4 separate regions of the Homo sapiens genome follow, and all the other regions are reported to be linked to region 3. The links are microRNA targets in miRTarBase. Many come from high-throughput screens and were not tested one by one. Region 3 holds a microRNA gene; each other region holds the end of a gene's coding sequence.

The links. Region 3 holds the annotated microRNA hsa-miR-204-5p (UUCCCUUUGUCAUCCUAUGCCU, at 2,946-2,967, shown strand). A microRNA usually pairs through its seed, bases 2 to 8, with sites in the 3' UTR of a target mRNA and lowers its output. Matches are read on the target gene's strand: a 7mer-m8 pairs with bases 2 to 8, a 7mer-A1 pairs with bases 2 to 7 and ends in A, and an 8mer does both.
Region 1: miRTarBase lists ODF4 as a target of hsa-miR-204-5p. Seed matches in the 3' UTR shown: 7mer-m8 at 5,264-5,270.
Region 2: the mRNA of DNAJC16 is a reported target of hsa-miR-204-5p. Seed matches in the 3' UTR shown: 7mer-m8 at 2,635-2,641.
Region 4: the mRNA of SLC39A9 is a reported target of hsa-miR-204-5p. Seed matches in the 3' UTR shown: 7mer-m8 at 5,080-5,086 and 7mer-m8 at 2,700-2,706.

The regions. Positions count from the first base shown.
Region 1 is chr17:8,343,492-8,351,228 of GRCh38, reverse strand. It overlaps ODF4 (outer dense fiber of sperm tails 4), which reads right to left. Exons shown (of 3, transcript NM_153007.5): 2 at 5,752-5,886; 3 at 5,183-5,561. The coding sequence ends at 5,377. Among named protein-coding and RNA genes, the nearest start is that of ODF4, 7.5 kb to the right of the region's middle.
Region 2 is chr1:15,566,197-15,573,933 of GRCh38, forward strand. It overlaps DNAJC16 (DnaJ heat shock protein family (Hsp40) member C16), which reads left to right. Exons shown (of 15, transcript NM_015291.4): 14 at 903-1,073; 15 at 1,582-5,537. The coding sequence ends at 1,981. AGMAT (agmatinase (putative)) reads right to left here. Exons shown (of 7, transcript NM_024758.5): 7 at 5,503-7,528. The coding sequence ends at 7,455. Among named protein-coding and RNA genes, the nearest start is that of AGMAT, 15 kb to the right of the region's middle.
Region 3 is chr9:70,805,261-70,812,997 of GRCh38, reverse strand. MIR204 (microRNA 204) reads left to right here and starts at 2,914; the gene lies at 2,914-3,023. The region is part of intron 6 of TRPM3 (transient receptor potential cation channel subfamily M member 3); the gene reads left to right.
Region 4 is chr14:69,456,550-69,464,286 of GRCh38, reverse strand. SLC39A9 (solute carrier family 39 member 9) reads right to left here. Exons shown (of 7, transcript NM_018375.5): 7 at 1,897-5,924. The coding sequence ends at 5,694. Among named protein-coding and RNA genes, the nearest start is that of PLEKHD1, 24 kb to the left of the region's middle. RefSeq lists a silencer at 3,950-3,999.

The DNA.
Region 1 (7,737 bases), not on the chromosome of region 3:
AACTTACAGAAAGCTGAAGAACAGGCTTAGAGGAGTAAGAACCAAGGGAGGCTAAGCAGCCAGAGCTACAACCCTAGTCATGCCACATGAGTTTTCTGGGAGAAAAACCCTGTGCTGTCCCCCCTAGACAATGGCCCTGTCACCTCTGCTGCAGGATGCAGGATCCTGCATGGACTACAGTGATTCCAATATTCCCTTAATTCTTTGCACTTAATGAAAAGGATACAAAGTCGCAGGTGAACAATCTTTTTTTTTTTGAGATGGAGTTTTGCTCTTGTTGCCCAGGCTGGAGTGCAACGGCACAATCTTGGCTCACTGCAACCTCCCCCTCCCAGATTCAAGTGATTCTCCTGCCTCAGCCTCCCGAGTAGCTGGGATTACAGGCATGCATGACCACGCCCGGCTAATTTTGTATTTTTAGTAGAGACAGGGTTTCTCCATGTTGGTCAGGCTGGTCTCGAACTTCCAACCTCAAGTGATCCGCCCACCTCGGCCTCCCAAAGTGTTGGGATTACAGGCATGAGCCACCGTGCCCTGCCGCAGGTGAATAATCTTAGTCATACGTTGGCACTCTGACTGCCTGAGAGCGGTCCCAGGTGTGTCTTCCCCTCCTGCACCTTCTATAATTGGAAGCGACTCCACTTCCCACTTATGTTGACATTCTCCCCAAATAGGAAAACCATATGAATGCTGAGCAGCTCCATATGACAAATGTTCCTCACAGCAATAACCCATGGAGCTGAGTTGCACCTTCCCCTGTTACATAAGGCAGTTTTCCGGGATATCCCAATCCCACTTGTCTCCCAAAATTAAAATGAAATTCCAGTTGCCATTTCTAATTATGCCCTCCTATTGTAAGATATTTTTTATACCAAAATGTAATGGTAATAAAATATGTCCACAGGCCAGGCGTGGTGGCTCATGCTTGTAATCTCAGCACTTTGGGAGGCCAAGGCGGGTGGATCACTTGAGGTCGGGAGTTCAAGACCAACCTGGCCAACATTGTGAAACCCTGTCTCTACTAAAAATACAAAAATTAGCCAAGCATGGCAGTGGGCACTTGCAGTCCCAGCTACTTGGGAGGCTGAAGCAGAAAAATTGCTGGAACCCATGAGGTCGAGGTTGCAGTGAGCCAAGATCACACCATCGCACTCCAGCCTGGGCGACAAGAGAGAAACTCCGTCTCAACAGAAAAAAAAAAAAAGAAGAAGAAGGAAATCCTGTCATTTACAACAAGATGGATGAACCTGGATGGCATTATGTTAAGTGAAATAAACCAGGCACAGAAAGACAAATACTGCATGATCTCACTTACATGTAGAATCTAATTTAGTCAAACACATAGAAGCAAAGAGTATTATGGTGTTTGCCAGGGGCTGGGGGAGGATGTGACTGAGGAGATATTGGTCAAAGACTATAAGATTGCCGGGTGTGGTGGCTCATGCCTGTAATCCCAACACTTTGGGAGGCTGAGGTGGGTGGATCACCTGAGGTCAGAGGTTCAAGACCAGCCTGACCAAGATGGTGAAACCCCGTCTCTACTAAAAATACAAAAAATCAGCCGGGCATGGAGGCACACACCTGTAATCCCAGCTACTCGGGAGGCTGAGGCAGGAGAATCGCTTGAACCCAGGAGGCAGAGATTGCAGTGACCTAAGATCTCACCATTGCACTCCAGCCTGGGCAATGAAAGTGAAACTCGGTCTCAAAAAAAAAAAAAAAATGCCGGACGCGGTGGCTCACACCTGTAATCCCAGCACTTTGGGAGGCCGAGGCAGGTGGATCATGAGGTCAGGAGATCGAGACTATCCTGGTGAACACGGTGAAACCCCGTCTCTACTAAAAACACAAAAAAATTAGCCAGGCGTGGTGGTGGGCACCTGTAGTCCCAGCTACTCGGGAGGCTGAGGCAGGAGAATGGCGTGAGGTTGCAGTGAGCCGAGATCGCGCCACTGCACTCCAGCCTGGGAGACAGCGAGACTCCATCTCAAAAAAAAAAAAAAAAAAAAAAAAACTATAAGATTTTAATTAGGAGGAATGAGTTCAAGAGACCTATTGTACAACATGGTGACTATAGTCAATAACAATGTATTGCATTTTGAAAAACGTTGAGATAGTAGGTTTTAAGTGTTCTCACCACAAAAAATAGTATGTGAGGGAATGCATACATTAATTAGTTCAACTCAGCCATTCCACAATGTAAACCTATTTCAAAACATCATGTTGTATATGATAAAATAATTTTTAAAAGTTTTTTAAAATTTTTTAAATAATTTTGACAAATTATTCAGCTAAGCTGCTTTTACATTCCTGGCCTTCAGATATGATGTGAGATAATAAATATTTATTATTTTAAGCCACTAAATGTGGGGTAATTTGTTATCCAGCAATAAATAGCTAATACACCAGATCTTTATCAAAAGGGAAAAATTATATACAGACTGTGAGAGTGGCCCCCTTTATTTATGTTACCCACCTAGCCCCTGTATGCATTTGAGTTTGTGACCCCTACAAAATCACTAAGTCAGTTTCTCTAATTACATTATACATACGTGTGTTTGTACCTAAGGCAGAGACCATGACATTCCTTTATTTGGTGTCCCTTCCTCCAGGATGACTAGTTCAGTAAGTCCCCTAGTAAATCCTTGTTCGCTACTGGGGAGAGGATTAAAGTGGGATACAGAGTAGAGATTTGTGGAATATCTGTTGTGCCTAATTTTCAAGCCCTTGTATTATGTTCCTTGCTCAGAATCTTTCCTTTGTTAGGAATCTTTCCTGGGTTAGGAATGCTACAATTGCTGATCAGGTGTGGTAAGAACAAGAATCTCAGACAGGGCTCATATTAAATAGAAGTCAGCTGGGCGTGGTGGCTCACACCTGTAATCCCAGCACTTTGGAGGCTGAGGCGGGCCGATCACCTGAGGCGGGCAGATCAGGATTCAAGACTAGCCAGACCAACATGGAGAAACCCCGTCTCTGCTAAAAATACAAAATTAGCCGGCATGGTGGTGCATGCCTGTAATCCCAGCTACTAGGGAGGCTGAGGCAGGAGAATCGCTTGAACCTGGGAGGCAGAGGTTGCGGTGAGCCAAGATGGTACCATTGCACTCTAGCCTGGGCAACAAGAGCATAACTCCGTCTCAATAAATAAATAAATAAATAAATAAATAAAGTCGATCATATACATTAGGTTGAACCATATAAAATTGCCACATTTAACTACTAACACAACATATATGGTTCAATCTGCAGTGGCGCGATCACGGCTCACTGCAACCTCCATCTTCCAGGTTCAAGCGATTCTCATGCCTCAGCCACCCAGGTAGCTGAGACTACAGGCATGCACCACCACACCCGGCTAATTTTTGTATCTTTAGTAGAGACGGAGTTTCACCATGTTGGCCAGGCTGGTCTCGAACTCCTGACCTCAAGTGATCCGCCCACCTAGTTTTCCCAAAGTGCTGGGATTACAGGCATGAGCCACCTCACGCGGCCCAACCTAATACATATATTTTTAACATACCTGATCCACTCACAATTTGTCCCTGTGAGAGGTGACAGCGTGCTGGCAGTCCTCACAGCCCTTGCTCTCGGCGCCTCCTCTGCCTGGGCTCCCACTTTGGCGGCACTTGAGGAGCCCTTCAGCCCACCGCTGCACTGTGGGAGCCCCTTTCCGGGCTGGCCAAGGCCGGAGTCGGCTCCCTCAGCTTGCAGGGAGGTGTGGAGGGAGAGGCGCGAGCGGGAACCCGGGCTGCGCGCGGCGCTTGCGGGCCAGCTGGAGTTCCGGGTGGGCGTGGGCTTGGCGGGCCCTGCACTCGGAGCAGCCGGCCGACCCTGCAGGCCCCGGGCAATGAGGGGCTTAGCACCCGGACCAGCGGCTGCGGAGGGTGTACTGAGTCCCCCAGCAGTGCCAGCCCACCGGCGCTGAGCTCCATTTCTCGCCGGGGCTTAGCTGCCTTCCCGCGGGGCAGTGCTCGGGACCTGCAGCCCGCCATGCCTGAGCCTCCCACCCCCTCCGTGGGCTCCTGTGCGACCCAAGCCTCCCTGACGAGCGCCAACCCCCTGCTCCACAGCGCCCAGTCCCATCGACCACCCAAGGGCTGAGGAGTGCGGGCGCACGGCGCGGGACTGGCAGGCAGCTCCACTTGCAGCCCCGGTGTGGGATCCACTGGGTGAAGCCAGCTGGGCTCCTGAGTCTGGTGGGGACTTGGAGAACCTTTATGTCTAGCTAAGGGATTGTAAATGCACCAATTGGCACTCTGTATCTAGCTCAAGGTTTGTAAACACACCGATCAGCACCCTGTGTCTAGCTCAGGGTTTGTGAATGCACCAATCAACACTCTGTATCTAGCTGCTCTGGTGGGGACGTGGAGAACCTTTGTGTCTAGCTCAGGGATTGTAAACGCACCAATCAGCGCCCTATCAAAACAGACCACTGGGCTCTACCAATCAGCAGGATGTATTGTGGTTTCATCTGGAGGGATAGACATGACCAAGATCAGCTATGGATGCTCTCCTAGGAGGCTGGCCTCTCTGGGCAACATGTCCAAAGCCTGATGGGCATTGCCAGCATTCCCCAAGCTAACTTTAAAACCCAAATATGCAACTTACCTTTTGGTCTTAGGACCTAACCCTAATGCTTTCCTTTGTTGCCATGTTTTATTCCTGCTGTTACATGGTGGAGGGTGTGGGAGGCTTGGGTGGAAAGCTATAGCAGCCTGGGGGGATGGTGGTAGTGGTGGTTTCCAGGGCACAGGCTCTATGCGCTCTGTCATCGGAGCTGGACACAGAGGGTGGGACTGCTGCCCAGGACACACACCTGGGCTGACCACTTGTGCTGTGGTGCTCCTTGTTTAACCTGCCTCTTATCTTTGAGCCATTTGGCTTTTGAATCCTTCACTATGCTTAAGCCAACAAGTTGGCAAGTGATATCTGTCTCCTAATCAGCTCTACCTCCTCCACCCACTAACTAGCAAATGTTGGGTCAGGGGTAACAAAGTAAAAAGAGGTTTAGCTCTCCAGAGGCGTTTGCCCATGTACAAGTATGTTCTGGTAGAGGTTGGGCAGGTTTAGGCACTAACGGGTGCCAAAAGGCTCCTGGGCAGGAAGAACTGGAAAACAAACTTGTTCTTTCTCCCTTCCTCTCCCTCCTCCTCTAGCTTGCCTCAACAACAGCCAGATATGAGAAAGAAGAGACGGACAATTTATTCCACATCACTCAAGCTCAATCAAGGCAGGGAGAAAGCAGAGGAGTGCAAAATCCTCCCTTTCTCATTCCTTGCAATGATGAGGACCAACCTATTCAAGGGCTGGGGGAGGATGAGGAGATGGGGTCAGATGAATGGACAGAACTTGGTGCCAGGAGTTCAGAAAAGATTACACATGTGTATCCTTCTGCTCAGGATCCAGGACTCCCTCCTGGGTGATGGGGGTGTCTGTGATCGTCTGTGCCCTTGGAGATTCTTCTACTGAGCCGAAACTGCTGCTGCAGGACACGGCACCACTGGGGTGGCTCAGAATCAGACTCCAGAAACTTTTATGGTTGAAGTAGCAAAGGATCGCTGGGAAAGGACAGGGACAGGGGAGAGGAAAGTTGTGACTGGGAGGTTAAGTGACAAGTAGGGTGAGACCAAAGGGAAGATAAGACCCTAAAAATCTAGCCCTGGGGATTGCCAGCCTCTTCCCTCCACACTTTCCCTGCCCTACCCTACCCATGTCGCTTCCTTCCCCCAGGGCCCTCTGGCCACTCACCGCAGGTGAAGTATAGGATAAGCACCAGCCAACCAATGAAATAGCTCCAGCCTATGGGGATGGATACATTCCTTTCCAACTCGAAGATCCAGATGTTAATGGGGAATAGCATGAGGGTGGAGAAGATGAAGGTGACTAGGAGACAGGAGGCAGAGGGTCTCATTGTCATACAAGAGTCCCACAGGAGGTTCTTCCTCATCTGCTAGGCTACAGCCACAAACCACATCACCACACACAGAGTGACTGGCCCTGAGGTTCCAGGAGTCAACCCCTGCATTTCTACCTCTCCTGTGACCAAGAAATGATGTAACTCGATTCTCGGTTCTGTTCTCCCACCACCCACAAAACCCTCATACCACCCCCAAAGAAGAGGGAGAAGTGCCCAGGAAGATGGGGGTTAGGAAAACAAAGGACCTTTCCAGAGCTAGGAGGCACCTTCACAGAAGCTCAAGATGGTCCCGAAGCCCACAAAGGGCAATTTTTGAACAGCGGGCAGGTAGGGCAGGTGCAACCAGATGGTGAGGACGAGGCCCAGCCCCAGGGTCAGGTTGAAGCTTAACTTAGCCACCTTAAACATGGGCTGATTGTCCACAGCTTAAAACTGCCTGGGGAAAATGACAAACAAACAAGATCAACTAAGGATTTACAAAAGATGAAACATAATCAAATGAGCAAATACAAGAAAATGTACCGCCAGGCGCGGTGACTCACGCCTGTAATCCTAGCACGTTGGGAGGCCGAGGCAGGTGGATCACAAGGTCAGGAGTTCAAGACCAGCCTGGCCAACATAGCGAAACCCCGTCTCTACTAAAAATACAAAAATTAGCTGGGCATGGTGGTGCATGCCTGTAGTCTCAGCTACTCCGGAGGCTGAGGCAGGAGAATCGCTTGAACCTGGGAAGCGGAGGTTGTGGTGAGCCACTGCACTCCAGCCTGGGCAACAGAGCGAGACGCCGCCTGCAAAAAACAAAAAACAAAAAAGACAGAAAGAAAATGTACAGACCCATTAATAATCAGAGAAATGCACATTTGAAATAAAAATGAAATATTGCTTTCACTTCTTAAACAATCCGAGATCCTTGATATGGATATTGTTTGATAACCTCAACCACATGCAAATGAATACCTCAACAGAAAAAATGTACAGAGGACTTAAACTGCAATTCTCCAAAGAAGGAGTACAAATGTCTGATAAACATATAAAGCTCAACACAAAGAATTGCTAATTAAATGTGATTTGTGAAAAACCATCGAGGCTGAGCATGGTGGCTCGCACCTGTAATCCCACCACTTTGGGAAGCTGAGGTGGGAGGATCTCTTGAGCCTGAGGGTTTGAGAGCAGCCTGGACAACATAGGGAGGCCCTGTCTCTTTAAAAATATACAATTGGTGTCGGGTGCAGTGGCTCACCCCTGTAATCCTAGCACTTTGGGAGGCCGAGGTGGGCAGGTCACTTGAGATCAGGAGTTCGAGACCAGCCTGGGCAACATGGTGAAACCCCATCGCTACTAAAAATATAAAAATTAGCTGGGCATGGTGGCATGCGCCTGTAATCCCAGCTGCTGGGAAGCTGAGACAAGAGAATCGCTTGATCCCAGGAAGCTGAGGTTGCAGTCTATATATATATAGACACACACACACACACACACACACACACACACACTTGGCTGGGTGCGGTGGCTCACACCTGTAATCCCAGCACTTTGGGAGGCCGAGGTGGGCAGATCACGAGGTCAGGAGATCGAGACCATCCTGACCAACATGGTGAAACCCCATCTCTACATACATATATATAAACTGTCAAATTAGCAAAGATCAAAATAAGATTGATAACACCTAGTATAGGAGAGTATGTAGAGAAAAGAGGTCCTCTCATACGCTCCTGGTGGGCAGCATTTGTGGTGAATGATCTGGTACAAAAGATCCAGAAAATCTACATTCTTTGACCCTACAATGCTTCTTCTTGGAATTTATGTTAAGGAATAAT
Region 2 (7,737 bases), not on the chromosome of region 3:
ACCAGACTCACCTCCCCGGCACCTGCCCCCCAGATCCTGTCATCTGATAACGCAGCATTGGAACATAGAGTGTAGAGAAGAACTCTCATGCACCTCCTCCCATGTAAACTGTGGCTACAGGGAAAAGTCACTGTGATTTGTGTTTACTAAGACCCTGTAGGTGTTTAGATGCCTTAGATTTCATAATGAAGGCAGAAGGAAAGAAGCCTATCAGGCAAGTGTTAGGTGAGCCAGAAGCAGGACGTGGTTTATCCCTGTAAATGTCAATGAACGTAACCAGTCTTGTGCGCACACACACCCAGCAGCAAGAGGCCAGGGTCTCCGAGACAAAGAACATAGACTGAATGATAGTTGTCTTCTTCATTCTGTCCTAGAGCAACTTCTGCACCTGAAAAGCAGCATCAAGCAGGGCACAGTGGCTCACGCCTGTAATCCCAAGACTTTTAGGAGGCCTAGGTGGGAGGATTGCTTGAGCCCAGGGTTTGAGACTAGCTTAGGCAACATGGCAAGACCCTGTCTCTACAAAAAACTTATAAAATTAGCTGGATGTGGTGGCAGGCACCTGTAGTCCCAGCTACTTGGGAGGCTGAGGTAGGAGGATCACTTGAGCCCAGGAGGTCGAGGCTGCAGTGAGCCATGATCATGTCGCTGCACTCAAGCCTGGAAAACAGAGCAAGAACCTATCTCAAAAAGAAAAAGAAAAGCAGCACAGAAAGGCTGTTTGTAGGTCAGGGATTACCAAGTCAGGCCATCCCCATCCTACCAATGTGTTAGACTCAAGAATAGTGAATAACATACCTAGTCTGGTTAGAACATAGCATTTTCTTTCAGCTGTTTCTTTTCAAAGTAACGGCTTTCCCCCTATCCTGACAGCATCTTAACTCCTCAATATTTCTCCACAGCAAGATTCCTAAAAAAGGCTTTGTGGAGGTAACTGAACTCACAGATGTAACATACACCAGTAACTTGGTACGTCTGAGGCCAGGCCACATGAATGTGGTCCTCATCCTGTCGAATTCTACCAAGACCAGCCTACTACAGAAATTTGCTTTGGAGGTCTACACATTTACTGGGTAAGCATGTGTGTGTGTGCATGTATGTATGTGTGTGAGAGAGAGAGAGGCAGGCACACTGAAATTGCACGCTTTTCTCTTTGGTCTTGTGGGGCTTCATCCATACAGCAAGATGCTGGCTGTGACCTTTCCAATCCAGACATCTGAGCCATTGCGACAGGGACCTCTTTTCCCACTTCACTTCGTGTTTTGTTGGTTCTGAACAGAAAAGCTTGAACTCAGTGTTATTCCCTGAGCCCTTTCAGTTACTGTTCTCTAGCCCTTGTGTATTTTCCAGAAGAGCAATGTTAAGTTCCACCGAGCAAGCGATGGGGGAATGGGTGATTGAAGTGTCGCAGCTGCTGGAGAGGCACTGGCTCCCACAGAAGGCCTTCTTTTTCTCTGTGTTCAGGCCCCATCCAACACAAAGCGTTTTCCTATTATTTTAAGTCTCACTGGGGTATTTATTTTCTCAGCAATTAAATGTGTCAGGAAATGCCCTGAGTCCTCAATTCTCTTCTTCCTACAGGAGCAGCTGCCTACACTTCTCCTTCCTGAGTCTAGATAAACACAGAGAATGGCTAGAATACTTACTAGAATTTGCTCAAGATGCAGCTCCAATCCCAAACCAATATGATAAGCATTTCATGGAGCGTGACTACACTGGTTATGTACTGGCTCTGAATGGCCACAAGAAATACTTCTGCCTCTTCAAGCCCCAAAAGACAGTCGAAGAGGAGGAAGCCATAGGGTCGTGCAGTGATGTTGACTCTTCCCTCTACCTGGGTGAATCTCGAGGGAAACCTTCCTGTGGCCTTGGATCCAGGCCCATCAAAGGAAAGTTGAGCAAGCTCTCTTTATGGATGGAACGCCTGCTGGAGGGCTCCTTACAGAGGTTTTATATCCCATCATGGCCTGAACTAGACTGAGAGGATTTTCCAAAGAGATTTGAACTCTTCAGACTTTTTAACATGCCCCTGTGAACAGGTATTTTCAGGACTCAAACTACCACAATGAACAGAGTATAGATTTTAGATTGCTCTTCTAGAACCATGGCTAGAAGAATCTTTCCTTTGTCCTGTTCTAACCTAGGAATGAAAAACACCACCAGTTTGAATCGCCTAGATGAAAATCTTTTCCTCTGGGTGTTATTTTTCCCCACTGAATGCCACACCATTGAAAATAGACTGCTCATCCCCTCTTCCTTTCTTGTCCTTGTCCCATGCTCACCCCACCCTCCTGTCCTGTGTCTTGGAGAAGCACAGGGCTCCACCCTGCAAGCGGCATCTGGCGGACCCTCATGAGCCTGTCGTGCAGGCCAGGTCATTGGCCCCTTCCCCAATCCCGGCCCTGCTGTGCTGCTGCCATGGCGCATGCTCCTAACTCTGAACAACCCACGGCAGCTTCTAGCCCCGCATCTGGAAAAAGGCCCCTTTCCAAGCAATCTCACGTTTACTGGTTGTTCTGGGAGTAAGTGGCTAAATGTATATTTTGGGGGTATCCCCCAACAACAGTTTGTTGGCCACAGGTTGAAAAGGAAAGGAATAAACGGGAGTTCTGCATGTGAGTTCTCAAGAAAAGGAAAGGGAGGCTGAGCAGTGGCTGAAGCGATGCAGCCTTGAGACACGCTGTGAGCATCCCATCCGCCGCCCCAGCGCTGCTGGTAGCCAGGGGAGGGGTCTGCACAGCGAGAAGTACTGTGATGACTTTGAGCCGTTGACATGTATGTCTTCAGATGCCTTTCTGCCTCTGTCGATTTTAGGGTATGGATATTAGGAGCCATAACTTGTAATCTTGTTCTCTGAACGTAGAGATAAGCTGCTATAAAGCCAGTAGATGTTAAACTGAAGAGAAATTATTCCCACCTGCTATGAGTCAGGCTTAAGGAATCTCTTCAATAGTGTCTCTTTAGTAAAATACCAAACATGTCTTTGTATCAAGGAACTTAAAATTTCTCAACAATTGTATTTTGAACACTGTTACCCTAAAAGTGCTGTCTCTTCAAGTCATCTTTTGCAGGAAGTGAGCCAAGATTTGTTCTAGACTCCCATTTTGCAAAAGGCTTACTTTCCACTTCTGGGCTGTATTTTGATGTCTCATCTTCATTGTTTTCACTCTTAACTTAGAGCTGCTTCACCAGTATTGGGGTCAGACTGGCCATCAGCACCTGAGCGTGCTGAGCTCCAGGTATAGTGGACCCCAGGGTGCCTCATACCAGCCAGTTAGAGAGCATACCTTTTATTTTTCAGGGCAGAATGACCAGTGGTTCTGAGTTTGAGTTTGGACAGCTTCAAAGAGTGGTCCGTTCAAATGTCAAAGCAAGGTGCCTTTGGTGGCTTTGTGAAGGGTGAAAATCAGTGATGGGACATTTACTAAGTATTTCTTTTTTTTTTTTTTTTTTTAGTTGTTGAGACAGAGTTTCACTCTTGTTGCCCAGGCTGGAGTGAAATGGTGCGATCTCGGTTCACCGCAACCTCCACATCCCAGGTTCAAGTGATTCTCCTGCCTCAGCCTCCTGAGTAGCTAGGATTACAGGCATGTGCCACCATGTAATTAGCCCGGCTAATTTTGTATTTTTAGTAGAGACGGGATTTCTCCATGTTGATCAGGCTGGTCATGAACTCCTGACCTCAGGTGATCTGCCTGCCTCAGCCTCCCAAAGTGCTGCTGGGATTACAGGCGTGAGCCACCACTCCCGGCTAAGTTAGTATTTCTTTAATCTTAATGCTTTAAACTAAGCCACTTGGATCCTGAATAATTTAAATCTTGAGCTACATTGGTAAGTAATAAATTATTTAAGGCCAGGAATTCCTGTAGTTTTCATGGAGTCTGTAGCTTTATTAAAAAATAAATCACTGCCAGGCTTCATTCTTCCATATGATCCTCTAAAAATGGACACTTCCTCTGAATGCTGTATCTCATGGCACCTGGTCCAACTAGAAATGGTCAAGGAATTCATTTGGCTCCTTGATACATCAGTCCTCAATATTACTTTCTAGGTATTTTATGGCCAGATTGCTTATATGAGTGGTCTTTTGGTTTGGTAGTAGGTTTTTATTTTTAATTTCTGTACTAATGAAATTCCTGACTTTAATTTCTGAAAACCAAAAACTCTCCAAGTGTATTTATTTATATTTTTTTTAATAGAGACGAGGTCTTGCTATGTTGCCCAGGCTGGTCCCAAACTCCTGGCCTCAAGCAGTCCTTCCACCTTGGCCTCCCAAAGTGCTGGGATTATCAATATGAGCCACCATGCCAGATTTGTTCATTTTTAAACATTTTTATCTCTTCAAGTCATCTTTTGATCTTTTAAAAAGCACCTTCAAACAGCTGCACCTTCCATTTGCACTAGGAAATGAAGGTAGTGATGGGATTGGCAATGTTCCTGGCAGATGTTTCAGCCCAAAAGCTCTTCTACAGACCGGTTTAGAGCTGGTGCCCTATGAGAATATTAGGGAGCTTTTATTTTAAATTGAACTTTACCCTTGTCCATGCAAGGCATTCCTCCTGAATGCATCCATGAATTTGTTTACTTTTGCGTCAAACATATGAGCCATTGTCATGCTCAGCCTGTGCCACCATTGCTCTGTCTGATGTATGTAATCATACAAGACCTGATTTTGGTTCTAACACAGTGGTCTTTGACTATCAACATTGATGTTTTTAGAGATGGGTTCTTCTGGTTGATACAGACTATGCATTGCGTTTAGCAGATGGGGTAAAACTGGCCTAAAACAAGTCTTTGCAGAATACATGCCAATTTCCAAAAAAAAAAAAAAATTTGTTGCTCAGGTGTTGCACAATTTTTATCTAACACTGAGGCTATCAGCTCCAACTAAACAACATTTCAGTGGGTGAGGCTGCCCTAACTTCCATTAGGGGCCATGGTCTCACTGCCATCACTTATTAGCCATGAGAATTTGGTTGTAGTTTTCAGGTAGGTTGGTTTCTTCCTCATTTGCAGCTTGTTGATACTTGTTCCTTTTTATTTATTAACATCCCAATCAATTTGCAGCTGCCATCATTACATAAATATTTTTCTGTTATAAAAAGAAGTGTGATCTGTTTTTTTAGTGATTTCCTTTGTTTGGGAATAGAGATTGGAAGCACATACTCAGACCTGTTTTGTTAACTAGAATTCTTTAAAAGCTGATGCCAAACATCTTTACAGAGGAACTGTAGTTCACATCCACCTGTCTGACATTGTCCCCTAAAAACAAGTGCAGTGTGGCAGCTGCTGAATCTGTCTGTTCAGTTTGTCAAGGAGGATAATTATGCTTGGGAGAGATCTGAAAAGAAGGTGAATATTTTGCACTTTTGATACTCTTAGGAACAAATAACTTATTTGGCAAATTGTTTCTTTTTTATGTTTTGGGTGTTGTTTTTGTTTTTTGACTTTTTTTGTATTGTGAACAGGCACTGAAGCTGATGTTATTTTAAGATTACAGAATGGAAAAAGAAATAAACTATTTTAATGTCTGATAATTATGGGGTAGCCCTTGCATTGCAAGATGATGATTTGATTATGGACACATTATCAACAGAATTGAATTTGCATGGAACTCAAGACACGCTTAAGATCACCACAGCATAACTGCAGATTTCAGGAATTACAGTCATAGAGGGTACATCAACTTGAAGAGTAGATTGAGTCTTACAGGAAGTGAGTTACAATAAGTAACATTAAGAGCCCAGCTGCCAGCCTGGCCAACATGGTGAAACCCCGTCTCTACTAAAAATACAAAAATTAGCCGGGCGTGGTGACGCATGACTGTAATTCTAGCTACTCAGGAGGCTGAGGCAGCAGAATTGCTTGAACCCAGGAGGCGGAGATTGCAGTGAGCTAAGATCGGGCCACTGCACTCCAGCCTGGGGGACAGAGCGAGACTCCATCTCAGAAAAAAAAAAAAAAAAAAAAGCCCAGCTGACATTTTCCAGTTTTGTTTTGTTTTCTGGGGTTTTTTTGTTTTGTTTTGTTTTGTTTTGTTTTTTAGTAGAGACGGGGTTTCACCATGTTGGCCAGGCTGGTCTTGAACTCCTGACCTCAGGTGATCCTCCCGCCTAGGCCTGGGATTACAGGCGTGAGCCACTGGGTCCGGCCTGCTTTTTTTTTTTTTTTTTTTTTTTTGGAGACGGAGTCTCACTCTGTCACCCAGGCTGGAGTGTAGTGGCATGACCTCAGCTCACTGCAACCTCCACCTCCCGGGTTCAAGCAATGCCCCTGCCTCAGCTTCCTGAGTAGCTGGGACTATAGGCACGCGCCACCACGCCCAGCTAACTTCTGTATTTTCAGTAGAGATGGGTTTTCACCATGTTGGCCAGGCTGGTCTCGAACTCCTGACCTCAAGTGATCTGCCCACCTCCGCCCCCCAAAGTGCTGGGATTACAGGCATGAGCCACCGTGTCCAGCCTTAGGTTTTCTAGTTTAGAAGACATTTTGTGTACCCTTCTAGGCCTCTGAGCAAGAAGTTTCTTCATTAGGCTCTCCGTGTTACTTTATACTTTTTACTTACGTTCACAGTGGTCCTAAAACCAAGATGCAGCCCTAAGCACCTCATAGGAGAAGCTGTATTTTTTTTTTTTTTTTTTGAGATGGAGTCTTGCTCTGGCACCCAGGCTGGAGTGCAGTGGTGCGATCTCAGCTCACTGCAGCGTCCGAGGAGGAGCTGTAGTTTAAAGGAAGATACTCAATACTCTAGGAAGCAGATCATCAAAATTTTAAAAAGCGGCTGGGTGCGGTGGCTCATGCCTGTAATCCCAGCACTTTAAGGAGGCTGAGGCGGGCGGATCACCTTAGGTCAGGAGTTCAAGACCAGCCTGGCCAATGTGGTGAAACCCTGTCTCTACTAAAAATACAAAAATTAGCCAGGCGTGGTGGCAGGCACCTGTAATCCCAGGTACTCAGGAGGCTGAGGCAGGAGAATCGATTGAACTCGGGAGGCGGAGGTTGCAATGAACCGAGATCATGCCATTGCACTCCAGCCTGGGTGACAAGCAAAACTCTATCTCAAAAAAAAAAATGTTTAAAAGGAAGATATAGAAATATGGAATGCTTATACAGTATTATTTCATAGTTTTTTTAAATGTCATGTTTCTAATGTTTAGATAATCTTGAAAGAAATTCTCCTCACTTCCCCTTTATCCTCCATCTTTCATCAAAGGAAAAAAAATCAAAGCAGTACAAGTACTCCTTTTTTTTTCCCCCAATTAATCCAAGTTCCTTAGAAATGTTGCTGTTTGGGTGAGAATTCTACTGATTATCCCGACTTCACAGCCAGCAATGACACTTTCAGCAGAAAGTTTTCTTGGCATAAACTCTTTAGTTCTCAGACTGCTTACTCATAAGTTCTTCTTGAGAACTTGTCAGCGACGCAATCTGTTTTGTCTTGAAGAGCACAAGACTCAGACGGTTGTCACTTTGGGGAGAGCACATAGCATCTCAAACAGCAGGTTAGCCGCCAGCAGGGCTGTGTTCCCTAAGAAAAAGTAAAACCTCACATGAATACCCTGCAGACGACCCGCTGAGCCAAGCCTTGGGACTCCTCAGCTTTCTCTTCCCCTTGTGCCTCCTTTTCCAGAGCCCTGTCTTGTGCACCCCTCTAGGGTGCCCGCCAGCTGTGAACACGCTTGCCCAGGCTCTCTGCCTCCATCAAGCATCATTTGGGAATCATATTTTAAAATTCAG
Region 3 (7,737 bases):
GTCACTACCTTAGTTTCACTTTTTATTCCTAATTTTCCCCCTTAAGACCATTTTTTTCTATTGTGTCCTGAAAGGTAATTAAGAAAATATTGAGACAATTTGCGGACATAACACATACCTGCTATCCAGAGATTTCCATTTTTAACCATAGTACCACTAATCTCACCCCACTTGACCTTCACTAAAGTATTACTTAATTTTTTTTCATTAGAGTTTGATAAATGGGGGAAAAAGAAGCTGAAAATACCAGCATGCCATTCACTCTGCAGGAAAGACATAGCTAAGCCAATGTTGTGCTTGGTTCCATTAACAAGTGCTTGTGCTAAATTTCCAGGAGGGTTTGTGGTGTTGTCTATTTGAAACTTTGCTGATAGTATTAAGCCAGCAGTCTAATTGCCATACACAGTGCTAGAATGGCCTGGGGAGTATGTGCTTAAAAGCCGAATTTATGTCCTCAGAAACACATTAATTAGGAACTCTCTGGAAAATGTACAGTAGTTGCTCTTGGTTGGCCATTTTACAAACTATTGAGAATCCAGAGGAACCAACCCTTAGAGGCTGTGCTTCAAGTGATATTGCTTTGCATTTTCCCCAGTGAGTACATTCTTATGAGAAGGCAGCTTTGCCAGGGTATGGGTGCTGACATATAACCAAGTGATGTTGATGTTTCATGAAAAGTGGGTGAGTTCCTACATGCCTCTCACCAGCCAGCTACCAGCTGCCAAACTCCTACTTCCCAATATTTGCCACAAGTGAGGCTGCTCTCAAAGTCTAGCTTGATCCTAGGAAGCTAGGGTCTAGAGATCTAACTTGAGGATTTGGGATCTTCCCTTAATGCTGTCTCTAAGGAAGGAACAAAATGAAGGCAGAGCAGAGCTGTTCATACTCATGGGGTCCTCCTCTGAGACCATCTGACCAAAGGCTAGCTTGCTTAGCAACTCCAGAAATATGATATTACCATTAAGTTTATCTCCTAGTTTGGGAAACAATAACCAAATTGGTAGGAAACCTGCCAATTATACTGAAATGGTTTTGATGACTTTTTTGGAAGATATGTAGACATAGTCATAGATGTAGATATATTTATATCTATACCTTGGCCAGAGAGAGAAAGAGGAATCAGTCCAATTAATAATATTATGCATGTTGAGTAACATGTTAGCTTTGTTTCAATTCCTCTTTTAAAAAGAAAAGAAAAGAAACTGGGTAGATTAGCCTCTAAATGGATAGTTCTTTTAAGTCAAAAGTAGCTAAACACTTGAAACTAGAACACTTATTTCTCTAGAAATCAGGAAAATGTTATTAAAAGGAGGGAAGGAAAGAATTCAATTCCTATCGTCTCCTGGAAAACACAGAATTGGAAGATTCATAATTATCATTATAATTAATATAACAACAACTAAGATTTCTTGAGGTTTTACTAAGTTCTAAGCATCAGTACAAGCACTTAACAGATATTAACTCATTTGACCCTTTCCACACCACAGAAGCTATCTAGGCTGGAAGAGAATAAAGAATGATACTTCCTCCAGCAAAGAGCTATGATTTTTAAGGACCTGTCCAGTTGAAGGAGTGATAAGACAAGATATAGCTGGTGCAGAAGGGCTGGATGATGCTCTACATAGGTTTCACTGTGCAACTTGAGTTGCCATCACGTATATAAATTTATGTAAATTGGGTAATCCATCTGCTTTAATAAAATGTGTATGCAACCACAGGGTGTAGAAATTTCAAAGATTTTATTTTTTGACAGGATGCCTGCCGTTTTTCTCTCTTGACTCCCGCTTGTTTTATTCATTTTGGGGTAGTTGCCAGTTAGACTCAGTTGGTAAGTATAATTAATGGAAAATGTGAATTTCTTCTTAAACTCCAAGAAATTAACCACAGAAGTCTTCATTTCCTTTATAATTTCCTAACAGTATCACTCCCTATGACTGTTGTTTTATCTCTATCTCTTCTGACATTCAACCACATCAGAAATTAGTTACTCCCTATTATTTATCATCCTAAAGATACCATATAGGACAGCTTGACGGCACTATTGGGATACTACTAGGAGGGAATGAGCATTTATTTAGGTTCCAAGCACCATGCTAGGCATTTTCATATATACTATCTCTTTTAATACTCACAAAAACCCTTCAAGATAGGGATTATTTTCTTCCTTTTATACAGTTGATGAAATGGCACCTCCAAGAGGTTAAGCCTTTGCCTTAAATCCAATTAGTGGCACAGCTGGGTGCAAACCTAGGCTGACATAATTCCAAAATACTTTCTCCTTTCATCCTACACATGGAAGCATTATCTCATTTTTTTAAAAAGGCTCCCCTAAAGTTTGGTTACCTTGGAGAGTTTGAGGGTCATTATTCCATTCAGCAACTATTTGAGCACCAACTCTGTGCCAAATATAGGTTGAGCATTGATTCAGTTGGAATGAGTCATCAAGCAAAACTTTGGGAAGAAGATGGTGGTTAGTTGCAAGATGGTGGAGAAACAATATTAGGAAGAAATACAACAGGGTGCTGGAGAGGAGCGTGGGGATGGAGGCAAGCAGAGGACCTCCTGATCATGTACCCATAGAACAGGGCGATGGAGAGGAGGGTGGGGTTGGAGGCAAGAAGAGGACCTCCTGATCGTGTATCCATAGGACAGGGTGATGGAGAGGAGGGTGGGGTTGGAGGCAAGCAGAGGGCCTCCTGATCATTTACCCACAGGACAGGGTGATGGAGAGGAGGGTGAGGGTGGAGGCAAGCAGAGGACCTCCTGATCATGTACCCATAGGACAGGGTGATGGAGAGGAGGGTGGGGGTGGAGGCAAGCAGAGGACCTCCTGATCATGTACCCATAGGACAGGGTGATGGAAAGGAGGGTGGGGGTGGAGGCAAGCAGAGGACTTCCTGATCGCGTACCCATGGCTACAGTCTTTCTTCATGTGACTCGTGGACTTCCCTTTGTCATCCTATGCCTGAGAATATATGAAGGAGGCTGGGAAGGCAAAGGGACGTTCAATTGTCATCACTGGCATCTTTTTTGATCATTGCACCATCATCAAATGCATTGGGATAACCATGACATGAAATTTTCCATCATTGGGCCCATAACTGTCCCATAAGAGAGATGAAAAACACTGTATGTTAAAGGTCATAGTAGAACTTCATCCAAGCAGCTCTGGAATTAGGAAGGAGTGAAATATACTCTCAAAGACTAATAGTTCTGGGTCCAAACCATGTGACTTGAAAAGGAAGCAAAGATTCCCCTGGACAGGTTACATATACTGTCATGCATTGCTTAACGATGGGGTTACTATATCCTCAGAAATGAATCATTAGGTGATTTTGTCATGAACATCATAGAGTGTACTTATACAAACCTAGAAGGTATAACCTACTACACACCTAGGCTATATAGTATAGCCTATTGCTTGTAGGCTACAAACCTGTATAGCATGTTACTATGTGGTAGTGAATACTGTAGGCAACTGTAACACGATGGTAAGTATTTGTGTATCTAAACATAGAAAAGACACAATAAAAACATAGTATAAAAGATACAAATAGTACACCTTAATAGGGCACTTACCATGAATGGTGCTTGCAGGACTGGAAGTTGCTCTGGGTGAGTCACTGAGTGAGTGCTAGAATATTTTTGTATACTACTGTAAACTTTATAAACACTGTATAATTAGGCTATACTAAATTTATTTTTTAAATTTTATTTCTTCAAAACTAAATTAACCTTAGCTGACTGTAACTTTTTTACTTTGTAAACTTTTTAACGTTTTAAAACTTTTAGACTATTTTGCAATAATACTTAGCTTAAAACATAAGCACATTATGCAGCTATACAAAAATATTTTCTTCATTTGCTTATTCTATGAGCTTTTTTCTGTCTTTAAAATTTTTTATCTTTGTATTTTTTAAACTTTTTTCTTAAAAATGAAGACACAAACACACTCATTAAACTAGGCCTGCACAGGGTCAGAATCATCAAGATGTCACTAGGTGATAGGACTTTTTCAGCTCTATTACTACCTTATGGGACCACCATTGTATTTGTGGTCTGTCATTGACCAAAGTGTCATTATGCAACACATGACTGTATATCAAGAACATCTTATTTCCTTCTGTGGGTGCTACAATCTGTTCAGCCCAATCATGCAAACTTTCTACTGCCTCAAACAGTCAAGGGAAAGGCCTTCCAAAACACAAATACCAAATTGATGATCAGTTCACTTTAGACTGTAATGACATCATTTTTCAGGTGCTGTCAAGTAAACATGTTTAAAGCTTTCTCCGCCTTTTAGAGGGTCTTCCCTCTAAAGAATAATTTGTGAGGAATAAACAACACAATCTATATCCCTGCTTTTTCATTATATGAAACGACTTGACACAGTTGGCTGTGTAACTGAAATATTTGTCATGCTTGTTAATGAAAAGTTACTTTGTCAATAAAGGTAATAATGAAGCCAAAAAAATAACTTTGAGGGAACAGAGCAAATTTTAGCGAAACTGGTTTCTTGGTATTGACTTGTCATGTTTATCTCACCCATTTTCCTATTCAAGCTAAAGACCTCCCTTTTTTCAGCAAAGAGACTTTTCTACATTGGAATTAGTTGTTCAGGGACTGGGATAGTTCTTGTAAACAAGTAGGTCCCAACAGGAGAGCTGTCCACCATTCTAAGACTTCTTAGACACTTTTACATTCAGGGAAGAATTTTGAGCTCCCTTTTCAGATTAGAAAGATTTGGGTTGCCAATGTTTGACTGGCATTTTGGTCTCAAAGTCAGCAATGTTTACTGTTGTTGGTCAGATACAATAGGTTCCTAGCATAACATAGGAACCTGTTATCTTGATGGAACCCAATATCTTCCTTATTTCATTGCTAACTACCTTTCATATTTTTCATCTGTTTTTATAGCTTCTCCTAACATAACACCATGTAGATCGTATGTCCCATCCATTTCAAGATACTTACAGTTTCCCTTAAATGATATACCCTACTGGATGTGGTTTTGTCTCTTTCTGACATTTACTAAAATTTCATTCTCTTCTCACTCTAACTACCTGGCCAAAACCTAAATTCCTTCAAGTCTCAGATTAAAAATCTTCTCCTCTCTGTAATCTTACCACAACTCCCATCCCTAGTATTCCCTCCAGCTCATACCCTGGTATCCTCCTGGGCCCACATTCACCTCATCCTCCATGCTCTTGCTGTGCTCTATATCAGCCTCTCCCACATACAGCTCCTTTTGGTAGAATGGAGCCTTCATAGTCTCCCATCTGCCTTCACAGTCTCTCATCTTCTGTAGATTGTGAGATCCTATAGAGCACAGCCTGTGTCTTATTCATTGTGGTCATTCTGAAAACCTTGCATAGTGCCTAGCCTATGCAAGTAGGTGCTCAATAACTTGTTATTATAAGCATCACTGTTTGATTTCCCTGGCTTTATTTTTAGCTCTGATTTTCAACCTGACACAAAGATGTAATAGAAGCGACTAGATACTAAAAAGCTATAAAAAAGGACAAATCATAAAGCAATAATGACATAGAAAGACTCAGGATAAATAAATAGCAACATGTACAAGCAAAGACCATCATGCATACTTCCAATTCATGGGCATAAAAGCATTTAGTCTGAGAAAGTTGACTGTGTTCCTGTTGAATTATGATTGTTGTAAATCATTTATATCTTATGAATTTAGAGAGTCTAATGATACATATTTTACAGCAGCCAGTGCACCGTGGCCTCAGTATTTCCATTTCCATGGAAAAAGAAATAACTATTGATTTTCCTCCATTTATTCAAAATGATAATTGCCCATGGTTGCTTTTCAGTCCAGATCAGGATCATTCCATTTAGTAGAAGTGCATGGCTAACTTTAGAAAGTTAGACACACATAAAATTAATGGGAAAACTTATGCTGACCGAGCAGTTTTCTGCCATGATCAACAGTTTTATAGTGAGATATATTTAGGGAAGATAAGGTGTCTCATTCCCTGGGGATCTTAAAGAAAAGTGAGCTGAGATTTTAATTTGCTTGAGATAATCATCTTAAAACCAGGGACTTTATCATAGGACCCTTCAAAGTCCCTTCTTAGGATTTATAATTATTTGTCTCTTCAAATTATTATTTAGATCATGTCAAGTCATTGAAACTAATGGATGTAAAACTGAAGAATCATTCATATAGTCTTGGGAAATGACTATAAATAGTGCTCCCAGATGTCACTAATAAAGTTGTCATAGCTGTTAACAGAATAAAAACTTTTTTCTTTTTATTTTATTTTATTTTATTTTATTTTATTTTTGAGACGGAGTCTAGCTCTGTCACCCAGGCTGGAGTGCAGTGGCATGATCTCAGCTCACTGCAACCCCCGCCTCCCGTGTTCCAGCGATTCTTCTGCCTCAGCCTCCCGAGTAGCTGGGCTATAGGCGTGCACCACCAAGCCCAGCTAATTCTTGTATTTGTAGTAGAGACTGGGTTTCACCATATTGGCCAGGCTGGTCTCAAACTCCTTACCTTGTGATCCACCTGCCTCATCCTCCGAAAGTGCTGGGATTACAGGCGTGAGCCACCGTCCCGGCCAAAAACTTGTTAACCTTGAACCCCTTAAGATCCCAGCTCAGGATCATGAGCCCCTGAGGCAAATGAGGAAAACAGAGATTTTATGCCCTAAAATGGCCAAATAAGGAACAGTTGATTTTTTTTTCTTTTTTGGCACCCATAGCTGAAACAAACAGCACTTCTCCTCATGAACAGGCTGTTCTCCTTCTGTGTTGGAGGCCAGGTTTCAAAGCTGCGTAATGAGTTTCACGTGCTGCAGCCCAGCAGGCAAACATTCAAGTCCTAAATCGCAGGCAGAAGAATGAAGAACTCTCATTGGCTAAGGAGCCTTGGCGTCGCTGGGTTCACATGGGGTACTGGGCAATTCCTGCTGGAACGAGGCAGGGTGAAAAAACAGGTGTGCCTGTGCTAAAACAGGGAGGAAGATTGAAGAGTCAGCTTTTCTGGTCATCAAACAAATCTGAGCTGAGCCCTTCCTCATTAGCAGCATTTCTTCCACCCAAAGGGAGAACAGAGGAAGTGCACACTGACTCTGGTGCATGTTAGAATTTATTATAAAATCCTGGGGGAGGCTGAGAAATAAGCAGCAATTAAACATGGTGTGCCTGCATGAAGAGTTTGGGGAGAAGTAGAAAGTTCACTTCATCTTTCTATTTCCATTCTTAGATTCTATTTTTGCACATGTAAAGCAGGATTTGTTTTCTTTTGTTTATTTTTTTCATTATTCAAGTAATAAGAACTCTTATAGGGTGTATGAATTATTGTTCATAAACTTAGGTATGTAGGAAATGTCACTTGGTAAACATTTTCTTTTATTCAAATAAACCCAATTCCAAGACCCTTTCCACCTGGTTTGTGGTAAAGTCAATCTTTTTTTTTTTTTTTTTTTTTTTTTTTTCGAGATGGAGTCTGGCTCTGTCGCCCAGGTTGGAGTGCAGTGCCGCAATCTCGGCTCACTGCAAGCTCCGCCTCCCGGGTTCACGCCATTCTCCTGCCTTAGCCTCCCGAGTAGCTGGGACTACAGGCGCCCGCCACTATGCCCGGCTAATTTTTGTATTTTTAGTAGAGATGGGGTCTCACCGTGTTAGCCAGGATGGTCTCGATCTCCTGACCTCGTGAGGTAAAGTCAATCTTAACCTTCATTAGGTCTCTCTGTCTCTCTCTGTCTCTCT
Region 4 (7,737 bases), not on the chromosome of region 3:
TTAGAACAGAATTCTTCCTTTTTTTTAAGTGAATTTTTTGAGACAGAGTCTTGCTCTGTTGCCCAGGCTGGAGTGAAATGGCGTGATCACAGTTCACTGCAGCCTTGACCTCCTGGGGTCAAGCAATCCTCCCACCTCAGCTTCCCAAGTAGCTGGGACCACAGGTGCATGTCACTATATCCAGCTTTTTTTTTTTTTTTTTTTTTTGAGACAGAGTCTCGCTCTGTCACCCAGGCTGGAGTGCAGCGGCGTGATCTCGGTTCACTGCAAACTCTGCCTCCCGGGTTCGCGACATTCTCCTGCCTCAGTCTCCCGAGCAGCTGGGACTACAGGCGCCCGCCACCACGCCCAGCTAATTTTTTGTATTTTTAGTAGAGACGGGGTTTCACCATATTAGCCAGGATGGTCTCAATCTCCTGACCTCGCGACCCACCCACCTCGGCCTCCCAAAGTGCTGGGATTACAGGCGTGAGCCACCGTGCCTGGCCCCAGCTAATTTTTTTTTTTTAATTTTTTGTAGAGATGGGGGTCTCACTGTGTTGCCCAAGCTGGTCTCAAACTCCTGGGCTCAAGCAATCCTCCCACCTCAGCCACTCAAAGTGGCTGAGATTACAGACATGAACCATCACACCTGGTGACACTGACTTTTAAAGACTTTTTATTGAGCTATGACATAAGGTAAAAAGCACAAATCATGTGTACTGCTTTTTCACCTGCTATAACCCTGTAACCAGCACCTAGATTAAAAAACAGATCAGGCCGGGCGTGGTGGCTCTCGCCTGTAATCCCAGCACTTTGGGAGGCTGAGGAGGGCGGATCATGAGGTCAGGAGATCAAGATCATCCTGGCTAACACAATGAAACCCCGTCTCTACTAAAAATACAAAAAATTAGCTGGGCGTGGTGGTGGGCACCTGTAGTCCCAGCTACTCGGGAGGCTGAGGCAGAAGAATGGCGTGAACCTGGGAGGTGGAGCTTGCAGTGAGCTGAGATCACACCACTGCACTCCAGCCTGGGCTACAGAGCAAGACTCTGTCTCAAAAAACAAACAAACAAAAAACAGATCATGTGAGCAGGAAAAAATAAAATAAAAATGACACCAAACAGAAAAGGATTGGTGGCTATTTTGGCTAAGCCCAGGTGTGTGTGTGTTTTGATCTCAGGGAAGCCTCCCGAGTAGCTGGGATTTACAGGTACCCCCCTACCACACCTGGCTAATTTTTCTATTTTGAGTAGAGACGGGGTTTCACCATGTTGGCCAGGGTGGTCTCGAACTCCTGACCTCAGGTGATCTACCCACTTCGGCCTCCCAAAGTGCTGGGATTACAAGCGTGAGCCACCATGCCTGCCCTGAGCACAATCTTTGTAACTAGCTATACATGTAACTATACATATAGAAAACCAGCACAAAGTGGGCCAGTAGTATTTAATGAAATCTAATGACTAACCATAAGTCCACAGAGGGAGAAAAACATTTATCAAATTCACACGTCACGTTTCTAATCAAATCTCTTTAATTTCCAGGGTCAGTTGTTCATAGCATCTATCTACTCATATAACAACTCTGCCCTATGAAATGAATCCACTGTGGTTTGGATCTGTTGCCTCTTTCTCTTTTCTGAGAGTAGAGAGAGCTACCTTCGTAAATAATATTTGCTAACAACAGCAAGGCAAAAACAATTATCAATGCATTTGTGTCTTTCAGGGCAGATTGGTCTATCAAGTCCTTAATTTCCCCTCTCTCCTTTCTCCCTCCCTTCCCTAAAGGATGTGCCTGTGGTAGGTACATCTTTCTACCATCCATCACAACTTTTCATTCTCTTTTCTGATGTTCAAATACAGGTCAATTCTGGTCATCAAACAAACTGCCAAAAGGATAAGTAATGAGCCACTCAGATTAAGGTATGCACTAATAAAAATTTAATATCAGAAAACAGCATTTTTTTAACCATTCACAATTAAAGTGGAAAGAGACAAAATTATAAGGCAGCCATCCATGGAATGATTTCATGTTTACAAGGGATCCAGAAAAAGGGACATTTAAAATCACTGTTCCAGCTATTGAACCAGGGGAACTGCAGTCTTATCCCATGAGACTTCTAACTTGCTGGAAGATGCCACAAGAAAAAAAGATCAAAGCCAATCTCCTTGTGTTAAGCCACTGGGTTAGGCTGAGTATATCTAGAGAATTCCTAAATGGTTGTCTAGTTCTTTCCCACAAGTTACACATTTCCTTCAGGCCTCCTGAGGTGAATCTAGATGTCTCAGGTACAAAGAGGTTTTAATTTCACAGCATCTCCAACAGTGCACTTTGGGTGATGTGGACCATTCTGTATTGAGCAGAAATTTTCTAATGGAAGGAAGGTTCCTCTGCAGAACAACTACAGAGGATTTTCACTTAACACTGCAGCAGTTCTGGATGAATCTGGTCATGATTCTCAGTCTCCCAAGGGGCTCAGGGGCCCACAAGGCAGGAACATCCTTTGGGGGTTTGTGCTGCTGTCATACGGTTCCTGTGTTCAGTCCCTAGCTACCATGTGTTTCAGGGGCTTAATACACTCCGATGCTGGTGTGTCCTCTTAGTTCTAATCCTTGAAAAAGAGAAAAACCAGGCAGTGACACTTAGAAGTAGGCTGGTAAAAAAAAAACACAATCACATTTTCTCCTTTCTGCAAAGAAAGGACAACTCAAAACAGCCACTCCCTTTCTTTTCTCTAATGATTCAAAATACCAGAACAGGGCTCACTTGGCTGTTTTGAATTGGGAAAGAAAGAGGTGAAAGCGGGGAGAAAGAGAAAACACATAACCTCTAGGTAGGTAGTACTGTTTCCAACTGTCTACGTTCCAGTGCAGAATCTTTGCTAAAAAAAAATTTGGCAATAGTGTGCACAGGAAAACTGAATCAAACCTGGAACATCACTGCTTTCTTGAAATGGAACTGACAAGCAATTAACTGGAGAATAAGTGAGGGGAATGGAGCAGTAGTATTCTTTAACTTAATTTGCCATTTAAGAGAGCACTTGGAATCTGAAGAAAGTCTATCCCTACCAAGGAAACGGAGTCAAATTGCAATTAAGATTAACTTTGGTTATATGGAAGCAAGAATCATGCTTCTCATCATCAATTGCGTCTCTTTGGTAGCCAATAATTCCATCTGTAATCATGGCAGCAACTTAAGTATTGCCAATGTTTTCAAATGTGTTACAGCATTAAGGCATCCACATCTAAAGAGGCAGTTTTAAACAAGAGGAAAACGGAACTGAAATGTGCCAAGAAGTGAACACGGACATGGCCTCTCCTGGAATACTGCCCACCATGCCAGCAAGCTCTTCCTCCAGTCAAGAAGGCCTGTGCCACGCTGCTTGGTTCCCTGCTGCCTGAAGATGCATTTGAGCCCTATGAGATTAGTATGGCTATTTCTGTCTGCTGACCAGGAGAGAAATGAGTAGTTCTCGAGGCAGCAGCTTTAAAATCTGGGAAAGCCCATACATAGCTTCTGAGAGCTAAGAGGGCCCTGAAAGGTTTGCTTGTTAATAGTGAGGTCCAGAGGGGAAGGCAAATTTGGAAGTCAGATGGTTCAATCCTTGCCGGAGTTCAAGGCTCCATCCAGCAAGATATACTAGCCAAACTTTTAAGCATGATGGCAAGGCACTGCTGAAAGAGGCTTTGGCCAGTAGAACAAATTACCATTGCACACAACAATATGATAGAAAGCACTACTGTCCAAACCAAACCAGACACTACAATCTGCTATTTATTTGACAAAGTCAGTTTCCAGAGAGAATCTAGGCAACCATATAGTTTTGAAGGACTAGATGAAACCTCAAGTCTCACACCAGTCAGCTGTTAACATCCAATCAAGGAAGTCATTTGGACTTTCCATACTATACCTTCTCTTGGTAGTAAAATTGTATGCAATTGTTGCCAATGACTACATACAACTGTATCCTATTTGTGCTACTTTCCTCACTGTGGCCAGCAGAGGGCTCACAAGCTTTATTTCCACAGCTGCTGATCCAGTGACAAATTCATGAAGGAAATAAATCATAGGCATGCTAGCTTATGCGTCATAGAAAACGTTTTTACAAACTACTACGTCCACTGCCCTGAAGAAACTAGTCTTGGTTCCCCCTTAGTGTAATGTGTTTTGAAATGGTATAGAAAGTAAAAATAAATTAATAATACAATATTATACACTTATTTGACAAGACAGGGTTTACAAAAATTTTGGCAAATATGAAAAAAAAATTATCCTAGTCTGTTAAACACTTTTGCTATCTCAATTGTTTAAATTACCAGATTAGTGATTGTGTCAATTTACACATGAGGAGGTGGTATTTTAAGGGCTCAACAAAGCGGCATTTGACACAAAGGTAATTTCTTTGAAGGGGGATAAAGAATAAAGATATTATTATCTTCATTATTACAGTTCGAGAAGTGGTTGTCCTGATAAGAATTCATCCCACACAAATATTAACACCAGCAGTAAGCAGCAAATTGTGGCGAGGAGAGGCTAGAGGGAAAAGTTAGAAGAAAAGCAAAGAAAAGACGAAGAGACAAGAGACATGATTCCAATAAGCTTTAAATCAATAGGCAAACACTTCTCATTTATGATCCATCTTGCTACAGGTGGTTATGTGAGAAGACACAGTGTCGCCAAAGCTGACCTAGTATTTAGGTCCCTAGAGGGATTGCTGATCTGCTAAGAGAAATAATTAAAAAAAAAAAAAACAAAAAAAAAGGACAACCATACATTTTGGTAGTCTTTTAAAAAAAGCTACTACAAAGATATCAATAACCATCCAAAAATCACTTAAAATTTAATATCCCTTAATTTCCAAAGACACTTTGTGATCTGACTGTTCTTGAAGGAAAGCCTAGAACTGAAACTACTAGAACTTGGCTCCTCTCTAGGAATGTGGAGACAGGTATTCTGCAAAGGAGAACTTGACAAGGAATGCTACAAAATACCAGTCACCTCTTTAGAAGCTCCTCCCACCTCTCCTGCTCCATTTGATGGAATGGCAGGCTGGATTCAGAGAGGCACGTGCCAAAGGAGCTGTTTAAATCCCTCTAGACATCCCTTTTCAATGGATATCTCTTTTGAGTATAAAGAGAGCTTTCAATGTGTCTTGCTATCATTTTCCTGACCCTAATCCCAGATTAACTAGAATCACCTTTAGCATCTAAGTGAGTGGGTGCTATGACCTTCCATCAACGCATGTGGCATAGATGCTAAAGCACCAGTCTTACATGGTGGGAACCATGTTAAAAATCAATGGATAAAGTAGCAGAGCCTCTAAACTAAGAAGAAAGAGACATAGCTTAATTACAGAACACTGTATTTTCATAATCACTATTTCATTGTGAGTATGAAGTTCTCCTCTTTTCCTTAAAACTAAATTCCATCTTCCCTGAGAATAGGGTTAAGAGAAATATTAAAACGCAAAATGTCAAGGGCCTTTTAAAAGATAACACAATGGGATGTCTATAGCTAACTGCAACGTAAATGTGTTTCTACTCTAAAAGCTTTTCCATTACTCAGGTTTTAACCTCACCTCCCCTCTGGACTCTAGGAATACATGTAGAGATGCGCAAGGTGAGACAAGAGACTGAGGAAGTGAGTAGCTGTCACGTGCCGGCTGTTCTCACTGGATGGCAAACGGCCCTGGACCAAGGCTGGACCTTGAACATTTAATGCTGGTGTCCTACTGACAGGATGAGAGGGATGAGGCAACCCAGAACCAGGGCTGCCACTTCCAGGCGGCTGAGGCCTCTCCCTCCCGTGGCATCGGGCTTGTGGCTGTGCCCTATTCCGCCCACCTCAGGGAGGACATGTACTGTGGCAACATAAAGAAATGTCCCGGCAGAGAAAAGCATGGCCACTCCCGTGGCGTTCACCTCTGAAAGGGCTTCTTTACTGCTCTGTGAATTAGAAGAGAGAAAGAGGAAAAACTAAGTCAAGTAAAATTCAGGGTCAGGAAGAAGTCCCAGTTAAAAAACACTCACTGTTCTTAACTGGTGCTGTCTAGGACACTGGGGACATCTAGAGAACACAGCAACTTTAAGTTATTCATGGGAAGCTTCCAAATAAGGGTTTAAGAATATCAGTGATGTACGCAATTGATTTTTTAAAAAATTTATTGTAAATCAACAATTTATAATTATATATATTTATAGGGTATAAAGTGACATTATGATTCATGAATAAAATGTGGACTAATTAAATAAAACTAACATCTGTCATCTCAAATATTTATCATATTTTGTGGTGAGAACATCTGAAATTTACTCTTAGCAATTTTGATATGTACCACACACTATTATTAAACTATATTCACCACAGTTCCATCATTCTGTCCATCCATTCATTGACTGTATCTGTCTTTAGAGATGAGGTCTCGCTATGTTGCCCAGGCTGGAGTTGAGTGGCTATTCACAGGCACAATCATAACACACTACAGCCTGGAACTCCTGGGCTCAAGCAATCCTCCTGTCTCAGCTTCCCAAGTAGCTGGGACTACAGGTATGCGCCACTGCTCCTGGTTCACAATTGCTTTTTAAAACGAACTTTAAGTGCTGGTTCAACAGGTTTGGCTTGTATTATTCTTGAGATAGAATCAACAATATATTATTGCAGATATTAAATTTCAGACATAAATTTATTTATTCTACTAATATTTAACAAGCATCATCTATGCACCAGGCTCTGGGCCAGGTGCTTGAGATACAGTGGTAATCAAGATGCAGTAGTTGACCTCATAGAGCCTAGAAATATCTCTTAAGCAGCCGGGCGTGGTGGCTCATGCCTGTAATCCCAGCACTTTGGGAGGCCAAGGTGGGCGGATCACGAGGTCAGGAGTTCGAGACCAGCCTGGCCAACATGGTGAAACCCTGTCTCTACTAAAAATACAAAAATTAGCCGGGCATGGTGGCGGGCGCCTGTAATCCCAGCTACTCCGGAAGCTGGGGCAGGAGAATCGTCTGAACCTGGGAGGCAGAGGTTGCAGTGAGCCAAGATTGCGCCATTGTACTCCAGCCTGGGTGACAGGCAAGATTCCATCTCAAAGGAAAAAAAAAATGTGTGTGTGTGTGTGTGTGTGTATATATATGTATATCTCATAAGCTAATCTTTATAAAACTAATTTCAACCTTTTCTGTTAAAAAAGTAGACCTATGGACTAAGACAACTAATTAAAATTTTAAGAAAAGGACATCCCATAGATGCAGCAAGTAACTCCATGTCTCCAGAATTATCAGCACCTTCCTGTCAAAAGGTTAAAAAACTGACACTGATTACTGAAGTGATAGAGTAATCTGTTAAAGGGAACAACATACTGCTCACTGAAAGAAGAGAAGGCTCTTCAGGTAAATGGAAAGGGTTTTTATAACACACTCTTAGCATCTAAGATCAACAAACCCTTGCTTAACAGGAACTTAGCCATTCTTTATCTCATTTTTCACATGTTCCTATTAATATGGGTTTTACTGCCAAATACTGAATTGACTGATGCTCAGAAGAATCAATGACCTTTAGAGAGGGTGTTGGGGAAAGCAGTTCCCATCAACTAGCCCTGAGTCAGTTTGCTTCTAAGATTTTCCTCCAGTTGCCTGCCAGTTGACATCTGGGTAAAATGCGGAGGGTTGTTGCTCAGAGCTACAGACAGGATTATAAGGCATGGGAAGGTCCAGCTTGGAGTCAGAAGAGCACATGTTACCTCAGGTCTGAAGCTATGTT